Linked DNA regions of Homo sapiens. The protein of the gene in region 1 interacts with the protein of each later gene in a biochemical or structural test. Each region holds a gene or a part of one and is shown in the gene's direction. Other genes may lie near its edges.

Region 1 (4,615 bases):
GTGCCTCAGCCTCCCAAGTAGCTGGGATTACAGGCACCTGCCACCACACCTGGCTAATTTTTGTATTTTTAGTAGAGATGGTGTTTCTCCATGTTGGCCAGGCTGGTCTTGAACTCCCGACCTCAGGTGATCTGCCTGTCTCAGCCTGTCAAAGTGCTGGGATTATAGGCGTGAGCACTGTGCCTGGTCTCTAAACTCTCTCTCTCTGTTTTTTTTTGAGAGAGAGAGAGTCTTGCTCTGTCATTCAGTGGCGTGATCTGGGCTCACTGCAACCTCTGTCCCCTGGGCTCAAACAATTCTCCTGTCTCAGCCTCCTGAGTAGCTGGGATTACAGGTGCACACCATCATGCCTGGCTAATTTTTGTATTTTTAGTAGAGACAGGGTTTCACCATGTTGGCCAGGGTGATCTCGAACTCCTGATCTCAGGTGATCCGCCCATCTCAGCATCTCAAAGTGCTGGGATTACAGGCCTGAGCCACCGCGCCTGGCCTCTAAACTCTCTTATAACCTAACTCAGCCACAGCCCTCATTCCAGGACATTCCAAGGCCCCACCGACCACCTGTCCTCTCATGCTCTAGCCAATGCCTTCTGCAGATGCCCCATGGTAGTTCACATCCACTTATGCGTCTTCTCTCTCCAGCCACGAACAATTCACCAAATACCTCAACTTCTCAGAGTCTGAGGAGAAGGAAAGCCATGTGGCCATGCACAGATACCAGGCAGGTGGTGGAGACGCAGGAGACTGGGCTGGGGTGGGAGGCTGGGAGCCGGAGACTGGGGAGGGATTTGGGCTTTGGCGTGGGCTCTGCCCTCAGTGCCCTCTGTGCAGGTCAATAACCTGGGACAGAGGGACCTGCCTGTCAGCATCAACTTCTGGGTGCCTGTGGAGCTGAACCAGGAGGCTGTGTGGATGGATGTGGAGGTCTCCCACCCCCAGGTACCCAAGGACTGCATGTGGCTCCTCCACGAATGCCCTTTCTACCTGGATTCCTTGTGCCCCATGTGGGTCCCTGATGTCCCAGCTGAGACACTTGTTCTCTGCATTTTCCCCCAGAACCCATCCCTTCGGTGCTCCTCAGAGAAAATCGCACCCCCAGCATCTGACTTCCTGGCGCACATTCAGAAGAATCCCGTGCTGGTGAGGAGGGCTCTGGGCTGGCCCTCACTGTAGGCCCCACATCAGAGGAATTTAACCCAGGAGTTCATGTTCCATATCCATCCTGCTGAAGTACCCTCTTGCATTCGGATATGGCCGCTGCCCTCAAGTCACACCGCATAATGCTGCCTCCCACCTTCACACTCATCTTTCTCAGCCCCATGCTATTTATCTGCCCCCAGGACTGCTCCATTGCTGGCTGCCTGCGGTTCCGCTGTGACGTCCCCTCCTTCAGCGTCCAGGAGGAGCTGGATTTCACCCTGAAGGGCAACCTCAGCTTTGGCTGGGTCCGCCAGGTGTGTGGGTGCAACGACAGAGCCCCTGCCCCAGACTCAGGCGGGACCTGGCATGTCTGTGCCCATCTGCAAGCCAGGGCACCCCCAGAGCTCTGAGCCTCCCCCAGAGCCAGTTCAACAGGTTTCCCCCAACCCCTTTGCAGATATTGCAGAAGAAGGTGTCGGTCGTGAGTGTGGCTGAAATTACGTTCGACACATCCGTGTACTCCCAGCTTCCAGGACAGGAGGCATTTATGAGAGCTCAGGTAGAGACCATGTGGAGGGCAGCGACCAGGCTGGAAAGAGGGCCCCTAGGGCTACATCTGTGGTGCTGGGTGGGGGGTTTGCAAGCCTTGGGGGAGGAGGGCGAAGGCCTCTGGGCAGGATAGCTGTCCCTAAGGGCACGGGTGCTGCTGTGTCTCACCTCTTGGAGCAGGGCCTGGGGAAGGAGGGGAGGGAGTTAAAGGTTGGGGAGCCTGGGAGGAGTCTGGGATAGTAGGAGGATGGGAGTGCTCTGACAGGGTCACTTCCACTTCAGACGACAACGGTGCTGGAGAAGTACAAGGTCCACAACCCCACCCCCCTCATCGTAGGCAGCTCCATTGGGGGTCTGTTGCTGCTGGCACTCATCACAGCGGTACTGTACAAAGTGAGTGTTTTATGCCACTCTTGACACCACCAGCATCTGGTCCCGCTCTTTTTGCAGAGTGAGAAGGAGCTCACTTTGAAGGCAGAGGCACATTCTTACTGGGTCACTTCATATGAGAAACTGCTTCCCACCTGCAATGTCACCTGTCCCCAGTGGCCCCCTGCTTTGTGATTCCCAGGCTTCCTCTAATATTTCTCCCTTTCTTTCCTGCTCTTCTCCATCATTCTACGTGTTTCCCTTGACAGCAGATTATCATATAAAAGCACAGACCTGGGTTTGAATGTCGACATCACCACGGGTTCTTTTTGTCTTTGACCATAGGCCAGTGTCTGCTCCACTCTGGGCCTTGATTTCTCAATGTGAAGGTGATTCTACCCCAGCTCATAGAATTTTGGCTAAATCTAGGCTGGGCACGGTGGCTCATGGCTGTAATCCCAGCAGTTTGGGAGATCGAGGCAGGTGGATCACTTGAAGTCAGGAGTTAAGAGACCAGCCTGGCCTACCTGGTGAAACCCCGTCTCTACTAAAAATACAAAAATTAGTTGGGCATGGTGGAGGTTGCAGTGAGCCGAGATCACGCCACTGCACTCCAGCCTGGGCAACAGAGTGAGACTCCATCTCAAAAAGAAAATAATTTTGGCTAAATCTAGATGACATGATGCATATAAAGTTCCTAGTGCAGTGCTTTGAACCTAGCAAGGATTTCAGAAATAGTGACCCCTCTCCCTCAGTCATCTCTTTTCCTCTCTTCCACTGAATGGGCTTCCTGAGTTTCTTCTTCGTCCTCCCCCCTAGGTTGGCTTCTTCAAGCGTCAGTACAAGGAAATGATGGAGGAGGCAAATGGACAAATTGCCCCAGAAAACGGGACACAGACCCCCAGCCCGCCCAGTGAGAAATGATCCCCTCTTTGCCTTGGACTTCTTCTCCCCCGCGAGTTTTCCCCACTTACTTACCCTCACCTGTCAGGCCTGACGGGGAGGAACCACTGCACCACCGAGAGAGGCTGGGATGGGCCTGCTTCCTGTCTTTGGGAGAAAACGTCTTGCTTGGGAAGGGGCCTTTGTCTTGTCAAGGTTCCAACTGGAAACCCTTAGGACAGGGTCCCTGCTGTGTTCCCCAAAGGACTTGACTTGCAATTTCTACCTAGAAATACATGGACAATACCCCCAGGCCTCAGTCTCCCTTCTCCCATGAGGCACGAATGATCTTTCTTTCCTTTCTTTTTTTTTTTTTTTCTTTTCTTTTTTTTTTTTTTGAGACGGAGTCTCGCTCTGTCACCCAGGCTGGAGTGCAATGGCGTGATCTCGGCTCACTGCAACCTCCGCCTCCCGGGTTCAAGTAATTCTGCTGTCTCAGCCTCCTGAGTAGCTGGGACTACAGGCACACGCCACCTCGCCCGGCCCGATCTTTCTAAAATACAGTTCTGAATATGCTGCTCATCCCCACCTGTCTTCAACAGCTCCCCATTACCCTCAGGACAATGTCTGAACTCTCCAGCTTCGCGTGAGAAGTCCCCTTCCATCCCAGAGGGTGGGCTTCAGGGCGCACAGCATGAGAGGCTCTGTGCCCCCATCACCCTCGTTTCCAGTGAATTAGTGTCATGTCAGCATCAGCTCAGGGCTTCATCGTGGGGCTCTCAGTTCCGATTTCCCAGGCTGAATTGGGAGTGAGATGCCTGCATGCTGGGTTCTGCACAGCTGGCCTCCCGCGTTGGGCAACATTGCTGGCTGGAAGGGAGGAGCGCCCTCTAGGGAGGGACATGGCCCCGGTGCGGCTGCAGCTCACCCAGCCCCAGGGGCAGAAGAGACCCAACCACTTCTATTTTTTGAGGCTATGAATATAGTACCTGAAAAAATGCCAAGACATGATTATTTTTTTAAAAAGCGTACTTTAAATGTTTGTGTTAATAAATTAAAACATGCACAAAAAGATGCATCTACCGCTCTTGGGAAATATGTCAAAGGTCTAAAAATAAAAAAGCCTTCTGTGGATATGAGTCCTGAAGGATGACACCCATGGGGTCCCTTTACCACGGTGGACCCTGGCCAGCACTGAGGCCTGGGGCCAGGACAAGAAGTTAACCAGAGTAGGGTTGTGAATATCCCTCTCTTGGAAGTAACCTGACCTCTTAATCTGCTCACTCCACTCTCAGGGCTGGTGCCGATGGTAAGCTGGTGGAGCTGTCGGGTGGAGGGGGCATAGAATAGAGAAGGGACAACCTCCAGTGGCTACTTTTCCACCTGGAAAGGTCTCTGGAGTGACCAATACTCACAAGCGTTTCCTACAAGTCCTAGGATGTGTTGAAGGGCACACTGTCTGCATATAGTGAGTGATTGAAGAACATGTTGGGGTCCCACATTGAGAGCTGCTGCCCACAATAAGGTCATTCTTGCTATTATGCCACCATCCTGGCATAAAGTTCATCATGGTGCTTGGCACTGAGCTGGGGGCCTCACAGGACAAGCCATTCCTGACCTCGGAGTGACGCCACTGCAGCTATCACCAGCAAGGGACCCGGGCCGTGTGGATGTT
Region 2 (7,291 bases), on another chromosome or scaffold:
TCATTAATTTGGGGCAGATTGACCTTAAATGTTGATGTAGTACCAATTTATTACATGTGACCAGTGTCCCTGTGCTAATGATTTAGTCAGTACATTAAATATTTATTTAAGTAGATAATTTGAGAACTAGAAATATAAATCAGCACGCCTGCATTTTCTGTTTCTCTTTGCAAATGACATATTTGAAGTGATGCCATTTTCTGAGAAGAAAGATGCTTCATGCAGGGAGGAATATTGAGCTATAACATTTTACTGTATTTCCCATCTTGGAAATAAATTAAACTCTCATTGAAATAAAGGTTCTTATTATATTTTTCTTAAATTCTAACCGTATTTTTACATCCTTATTCTTGTTAGCAGATTGCTTTTTGTATTAATCTGTTCTCACACTGCTATAAAGAAATACCCAAGGCCTGGTGTGGTGGCTCATGCCTGTAATCCCAACACTTTGGGAGGCCAAAGCGGAGGATTGCTTGAGCTCAGGAGTTCGAGACCAGCCTGGGCAACATGGAGAAACCCCATCTCTATAAAAAAAATATAAAAGTTAGCTGGGTGTGGTGGCACACACCTGTAGTCCCAGCTACTCAGGAGGCTGAGGCAGGAGGATTGCTTGAGCTTGGGAGGCGGACTTTGCAGTGAGCTGAGATTGCACCACTAAACTCCAGCCTGGACAACAGAGCAAGACCCTGTCTCAAAAAAAGAAATACCTGATACTGGGTAATTTATAAGAAGTTTAATTAGCTCATGTTTCTGCAGGCTATAGGAAGTATAGCGGCATCTGCTTCTGAGGAGGCCTCAGGGAGCTTTTACTCACAGCAGAAGGCAAAGCGAGAGCAGGCCATCTTACATGGTGGGAGCAGGAGCAAGAGAGAGTGAGCGGGGAGGTGCTGCACACTTTTAAAACCAGATTCCACAAGAACTCAGTCACCATCACAGAATAGCACCACAGGGATGGTGATAAACCACTCATGAGAAATCTACCCTTATGATCCAATCACCTTCCACCAGGCCCCACCTGAACACTGGGTACTATAATTTGTTATGAGATTTGATGGAGACACAGAACCAAACCATATCACTTTTTAAAACCATAATAGTTATGCTGAGAAGTTATTTTTTGTCATAGTGCAAGATAACATGTCTTTGCTGCTGATACATTGGGTAATTCAATTTCATTTAGTGATCATAATAACCTTATTATTTTTTTCTTTTTTCAGTCACGGAACAGCAAATTTCTGAGAAGTTGAAGACTATCATGAAAGAAAATACAGAACTTGTACAAAAATTGTCAAATTATGAACAGAAGGTATGATTATTCTTTGTTTTTTTTTTTTTTCATGGTCCCAGCTTGAATTATTTGTCACCTATCTTATAGTTCAGTTACTATGGTATTTTTAAATAGTATTTATTATTACATTAATTCCTATAAACCATCCAGATCTTAAGCAGTCATATGTGTAAAGTACTGTTTTCTTCTGTAAGAGGTCAGTCACTTGAAAATAAGTTCTGGTAGCACTATACTTTATATTTCTGGATTCTGAATGCTTTATTTTATATAGATCAAGGAATCAAAGAAACATGTTCAGGAAACCAGGAAACAAAATATGATTCTCTCTGATGAAGCAATTAAATATAAGGTAAAAACTTCTTTTGGGGATTACATTTTAAAACAAAAGTAAAAGTAATGAGTATAACTAACCTTAATATCTTTTTTGTAGGATAAAATCAAGACACTTGAAAAAAATCAGGAAATTCTGGATGACACAGCTAAAAATCTTCGTGTTATGCTAGAATCTGAGAGAGAACAGAATGTCAAGAATCAGGACTTGGTAAGAGTTTTGCTGCTAAGTATTACTAATAATTTGGGTTTTGAACTCTTTTGTAGATTGAGTTGAACTCTTTATTTTCCATGCTGTTATGTGAAGTAAGAGTGCGAGTCAGGGAAGTTGAACCTACTTCTGTCCATTTTTGTGGAATTTTAAGTACTTACACAAGAAATTATTCTTACAGGCCTAGGAAGTATTTTGGTTCTCAACCCTAGGTAATTGTCATATTGCTTGGCTCTGCCCTCCGAAACATGTGGAACAACTAAGAAACCCAGTTGAACAGTCCTTGTGTTTTGTTTTGTTTTGCAAAGTTTTTTTTTTTTTTTGCTATAAACATTTTATTTTATTAATAGAATAGTTTTAGAATGACCTAAAAGTTGCAAAGATAGTAGAGAGGGTTCCATAAATCCCACACCCTATTAATCTTGATGACCTCGTTGAGGTAGTATTGCCAGGTTTCTTCACTGTAAAATTACTTTTTTTTTTTTTAAACTTTTTGCATTATTGTACTCTTTGGAAGGAAGTTACTATCGCAGCCCACAGTTAAAAAGTGAAGGGTTATGCTCCATCCTCTTGAGGAGCCAGAATCTTCATAAATTATCTAGAATTCTATATGGGTGATCTGTCTATTCTCACTCCAATCCTACCATTTTTAATTTAGGCAAGAGCAATTGGTGTTTGACAAAACAATTGTCAAATTGTACTAAATTAAAGTACCTTGGGGATTATTTTTTTCTCTTGCCACAAGAAAAAAAAAAGTCACATTGATTTGAACTGGTTTACTTAAAAGTTTTTTCAGTTTCTTTTCTTTCACCTTTTAGTCTGGTCATCTACCACATTTTATTCTAACCAGGAAGGTTGTGTATGCTGTGAAATATTTATGCCTTTGATTATTTTCCCTTACCTCTTTAAGTTCTTGATTTTTCCCGAGGGCAAAACTGAAACACCTGCTTTTACCTGAAACATAGGGGATGGCTCTGGGACATACTTTGTTGATGTTTCTTCTTCTTAGTATGTATCCCAGTGTTTCTACTAAAATCCTAATATGCATTTTGTGTTCTGTTTTTACATGGCAGATATCAGAAAACAAGAAATCTATAGAGAAGTTAAAGGATGTTATTTCAATGAATGCCTCAGAATTTTCAGAGGTAAAGCTGACTGTAATTCCTGCAGGATATTAATACTATATCATAGTTTGATTGCAGAGCAAAAATTTGATATATGCTAAAATGTGCAAAAAATGAAAACTACATGATGTTGGGTTGGAAAAGTAACTTTTTCTGGTTTTCTTTGGAATTAATTCACTAATAGGAGTGTTTTGCATTAGGTTCAGATTGCACTTAATGAAGCTAAGCTTAGTGAAGAGAAGGTGAAGTCTGAATGCCATCGGGTTCAAGAAGAAAATGCTAGGCTTAAGAAGAAAAAAGAGCAGGTAAAGGAAAGTGCGTGTCCCAGGTCATGTAAAATAGAGAACTCAGTATCATACCTCATGAATGCCTTTACTCAGATCTATTTTTAGGGTAATATATGTGCAGGATTCTGTTCTTAGATATGCAAAGTTTAAACTATGCTTCCAAAATTGAGTGTAGGTATACATTCTCTATCTGTTCTGGATTTTCTGTTCTGTACAATTTATTTTGGCTATCAGAGTGTGTAGTCTTGTTTTGTCAGACACCAATTGCTATTAACTTGAGTAGCCTCGAGTGGGTAGTAGATTGGCTTTTTAGACCCAAGAGTTAGATATTTTATAACCCTCCTTTGAGTAGTTACTGCTTCACTAGCCAAGGGAAGGTTACATGATCAGGAGTGTGGACTTGGGAGATAGTAGGATGAGCCCTTCTGTTCCTTCTGGAAGTGAATTATTTGAATTGGCTACAATTTTCTGAAGGATGCAATAAACAAGATCAATTTCCTTGATAGCTCTGATGTTCTCACTACAGCTCTGAGGGTTGGGGCCACTGTCTCCTCCCACTTAACCAAGGTCTTAGCCCATAGTGATAGGCCAAGGAGAGGCATGGTTCCTTATTTACCTGTCTCATTCATGTGGTCCTAATGTCTCCAGTGCAAAAGCCCTAACCTGTGGGAATCATGTGTTTTAACTTTGCAGTTGCAGCAGGAAATCGAAGACTGGAGTAAATTACATGCTGAGCTCAGTGAGCAAATCAAATCATTTGAGAAGTCTCAGAAAGATTTGGAAGTAGCTCTTACTCACAAGGATGATAATATTAATGTAAGTGCGTTCATGAATACAAGCTTAATTCTTGTGAATTATCAAATCTGTTGAATTAAATGGAAAGACTCTTAATGCCCTTTTACTTCTTTTCTAGGCTTTGACTAACTGCATTACACAGTTGAATCTGTTAGAGTGTGAATCTGAATCTGAGGGTCAAAATAAAGGTGGAAATGATTCAGATGAATTAGCAAATGGAGAAGTGGGAGGTAAGATCAGCCTCAAGGAGGATGGACCCCTTTTGCCTTCCTGTCTTTAAGTGCACCAGTGCTACTTTTCAGCTGGCTGCATTTCCTCTTAAGCTTTCGAGGTGTAAATACATTGGATTTGAATGTGTGTCTGTTTGCATTGGGCAGAGGTGGATTGCTAGGGTGAGGTGTAGCAGTAAGCATGCAGTGAACACTGACTTTGTTTTCACATTGAGACTAGAAGGGTGCACGGGAGCTGCACTGGTCATGTCTTACACCTCTAAGTATTGGACACATACAGTAGTAGAAACTTGTTTTTCAATTTCATGGAGATAACATTTTAAAACTTGTCATCTCAGTAGCTGTGTGGTTTTAAGGCCCACAACTGGTTTTAAGAGTACTGAGGTGGTTGGAGGCATAAACTGACTAAGGCCATGAAAGAAAACCACAACTGGTTTTGAGAGTACTGAGGTGGTTGGATCCATAAACTAAGGCCATGAGAGTGGAGGCTATAGTGTTGCAGTGTTTACTGATGAGGAAAATGTTTCTAGATGCCCTCTCTCAAGTTGGATATTGCTTGTGTAGTGGGTGTTTTAAACCACACCTGGTAGTAGATTCTGGAGGAGAATAGGAGGGAATCTTTCTGAATAAGACACTAAGCCCAGATGGAAGAAAGAGCTTTATCTCACATGTTTCTTCTTGCTCAATAATGGCATGTATAACATGTTTATTGTACAAATGGGAATTCACTTTTTCAGTCTTAAGTTTGCAGTTCTCTTAAAAGTCAGTCTAATCCTTTTCTGTTTTTGTTTGTTCTTTAAATGTTTGAACATGACAATTGTTTAGTTTTGGGTAAATCAAGAAAATATAGATTTAAAAAGCAAGGGAAGAAAAAGCAATGAAAGAAAGCCTTTTGTTTTTTAGGTGACCGGAATGAGAAGATGAAAAATCAAATTAAGCAGATGATGGATGTCTCTCGGGTATAATCGTTTTTAGAGTCCCATAATTGCCTGTGAATACTTTTACTATGCCTCACTTTTATGAATACTTGTCTCTTCTGCAATTTTTAGACACAGACTGCAATATCGGTAGTTGAAGAGGATCTAAAGCTTTTACAGCTTAAGCTAAGAGCCTCCGTGTCCACTAAATGTAACCTGGAAGGTAGGTTGCTTCTTGAGAAGAAATTGCTATATATTGGAAAGATACAAAATTGCATTAGAAAGATAAAGAGCGGCTTCCTGCTTTCATACTTCTCATTTCTCTCAGCACCAGCCCCCAACCAAGTTCTCAAGTTCTTGTGCACACATATGGAACTCAAATGTTTTATCCTTTACAGACCAGGTAAAGAAATTGGAAGATGACCGCAACTCACTACAAGCTGCCAAAGCTGGACTGGAAGATGAATGCAAAACCTTGAGGCAGAAAGTGGAGATTCTGAATGAGCTCTATCAGCAGAAGGAGATGGCTTTGCAAAAGTAAGATTATCATCATTTACTGTTAACTGTATTGTCATGTCAGTAAATAAATGTGTACTAATATAGATAATGTTATCGTTTTTCAGGATTGTACTCTTTTGCATCTGTAATTAGTATAAATTTGTCTTTCTTTCTTTCTGCTTTGTTTCTCATAAGCTGCATTTTTCTTTCCTTTCTAACCAGTAGTCAAAAACTGTTGCCTGTAACTCACTTAAGGGGGAGCAGTGTACTGGTACTGACGGTCGCTGCTGTGGGAGTGCTTCTCTTTTGAAGATCTGGCCATGCCTTGTCTGTGGCTCCGCCACTTGTTTCACTTTCCTTTCTTTGTGGTCAATTATGTAATTTCCTTTAAACAGTCTGAGGGATTTGTATGACGTGTTTTAGTAGAATAAAAACTTCAAAAAAGGAAAATTTACTTATTGAAGGTACATTTAGTTTTGGACTTCACAGAGTAAAATATTCAAACTAAACATAATTGTGGCAAAGATATTAGGAGTTTTGAATGTAGAACTATTTGGTGTGTATATTTAGATAATAATCCTCTGAAATACATATCTCAAATTTCGAGCGAGGTACCTTTTGAGAGGTATATTTTTATAGTTCAAGTTTTTTGTCCACAAAAACATCTGAATTCTCTAAAAATAGGTTATCTGTGGCAGTTGCTATTTGTGTTTGCTCTTATGTTTTACTCTTTGGTGTATATGGCAGTGTGTGAGGAGGCCTCTCTTGCTAAGCAAATTTAACTTTTTTAAATGCTTAGACTGCTACTGCTGTATGCCATTAAATATTGAAACCATACCATTAACTTTTTCTCTAATTCTTTGCTCACCAGGCAGCCAGTTTAGATTTTCCAGGTTTTGTTCAGGCCAGCTCTAAATAAATGCCTGTCCTGCTTCAGAGAGACATTCCTCATTTCATTACTTTTTAAAAAAGAGCACTTCTCTGCCTCCAATAGTAATGTGAATTACGTAAATGGCAACTGTTTTTCTTCGTGATACAGTTAACCCATTGATGTGGCAGTGTTTTATTCAACTTCCCCAAAATTCATTCAGTCTCCATGTGTGGTTTGTACTCTACTGTCCACCCCTAAAGTCACTGTGTTAATTCAGGCCCTTGTCATCTTTTATGCCAGTCCCCTAGCTAATCACGTATCTCCAGACTTTCTTTCCCTTTTTTTTTTTTTTTTTTTTTTTTGAGACAGAGTCTCACTCTGCCGCCCAGGCTGGAGTGCAGTGGCGTGGTCTCAGCTTACTGCAAGCTCCGCCTCCCAGGTTCATGCCATTCTCCTGCCTCAGTCTCCCGAGTAGCTGGGACTACAGGCGCCCGCCACCATGCCCGGCTAATTTTTTTTGTATTTTTAGTAGAGATGGGGTTTCACCTGTGTTAGCCAGGATGGTCTCAATCTCCTGACCTCGTGATCCACCCGCCTCGGCCTCCCAAAGTGCTGGGATTACAGGTGTGAGCCACCGCGCCCGGCCAAAGAATATACTTTAATGCAGGTTCAGTGAGTTTACTTTTGTATGAAAATGTCTTTAGTTTGACTCCATTTTAAAAGGATCTTTCTGCTGGTTC

What was found.
Region 2: the proteins of ITGAX (region 1) and MIA3 form a complex in vitro, tested with the Homo sapiens proteins (one study listed by BioGRID).

The regions. Positions count from the first base shown.
Region 1 is NC_000016.10:31,378,926-31,383,540, forward strand, and holds the end of ITGAX (integrin alpha-X isoform 2 precursor), read left to right. Parts: intron 1-642; coding exon 643-721; intron 722-831; coding exon 832-939; intron 940-1,056; coding exon 1,057-1,140; intron 1,141-1,340; coding exon 1,341-1,454; intron 1,455-1,597; coding exon 1,598-1,699; intron 1,700-1,971; coding exon 1,972-2,082; intron 2,083-2,877; coding exon 2,878-2,982; 3' UTR 2,983-3,542; coding exon of another isoform or gene 3,543-3,571; 3' UTR 3,572-4,074; downstream 4,075-4,615. UniProt on the Homo sapiens protein: Integrin alpha-X/beta-2 is a receptor for fibrinogen. It recognizes the sequence G-P-R in fibrinogen. It mediates cell-cell interaction during inflammatory responses. It is especially important in monocyte adhesion and chemotaxis.
Region 2 is NC_000001.11:222,649,075-222,656,365, forward strand, and holds part of MIA3 (transport and Golgi organization protein 1 homolog isoform 1 precursor), read left to right. Parts: intron 1-1,217; coding exon 1,218-1,306; intron 1,307-1,559; coding exon 1,560-1,637; intron 1,638-1,718; coding exon 1,719-1,829; intron 1,830-2,902; coding exon 2,903-2,974; intron 2,975-3,153; coding exon 3,154-3,258; intron 3,259-3,933; coding exon 3,934-4,056; intron 4,057-4,153; coding exon 4,154-4,265; intron 4,266-5,168; coding exon 5,169-5,224; intron 5,225-5,314; coding exon 5,315-5,405; intron 5,406-5,580; coding exon 5,581-5,719; intron 5,720-7,291.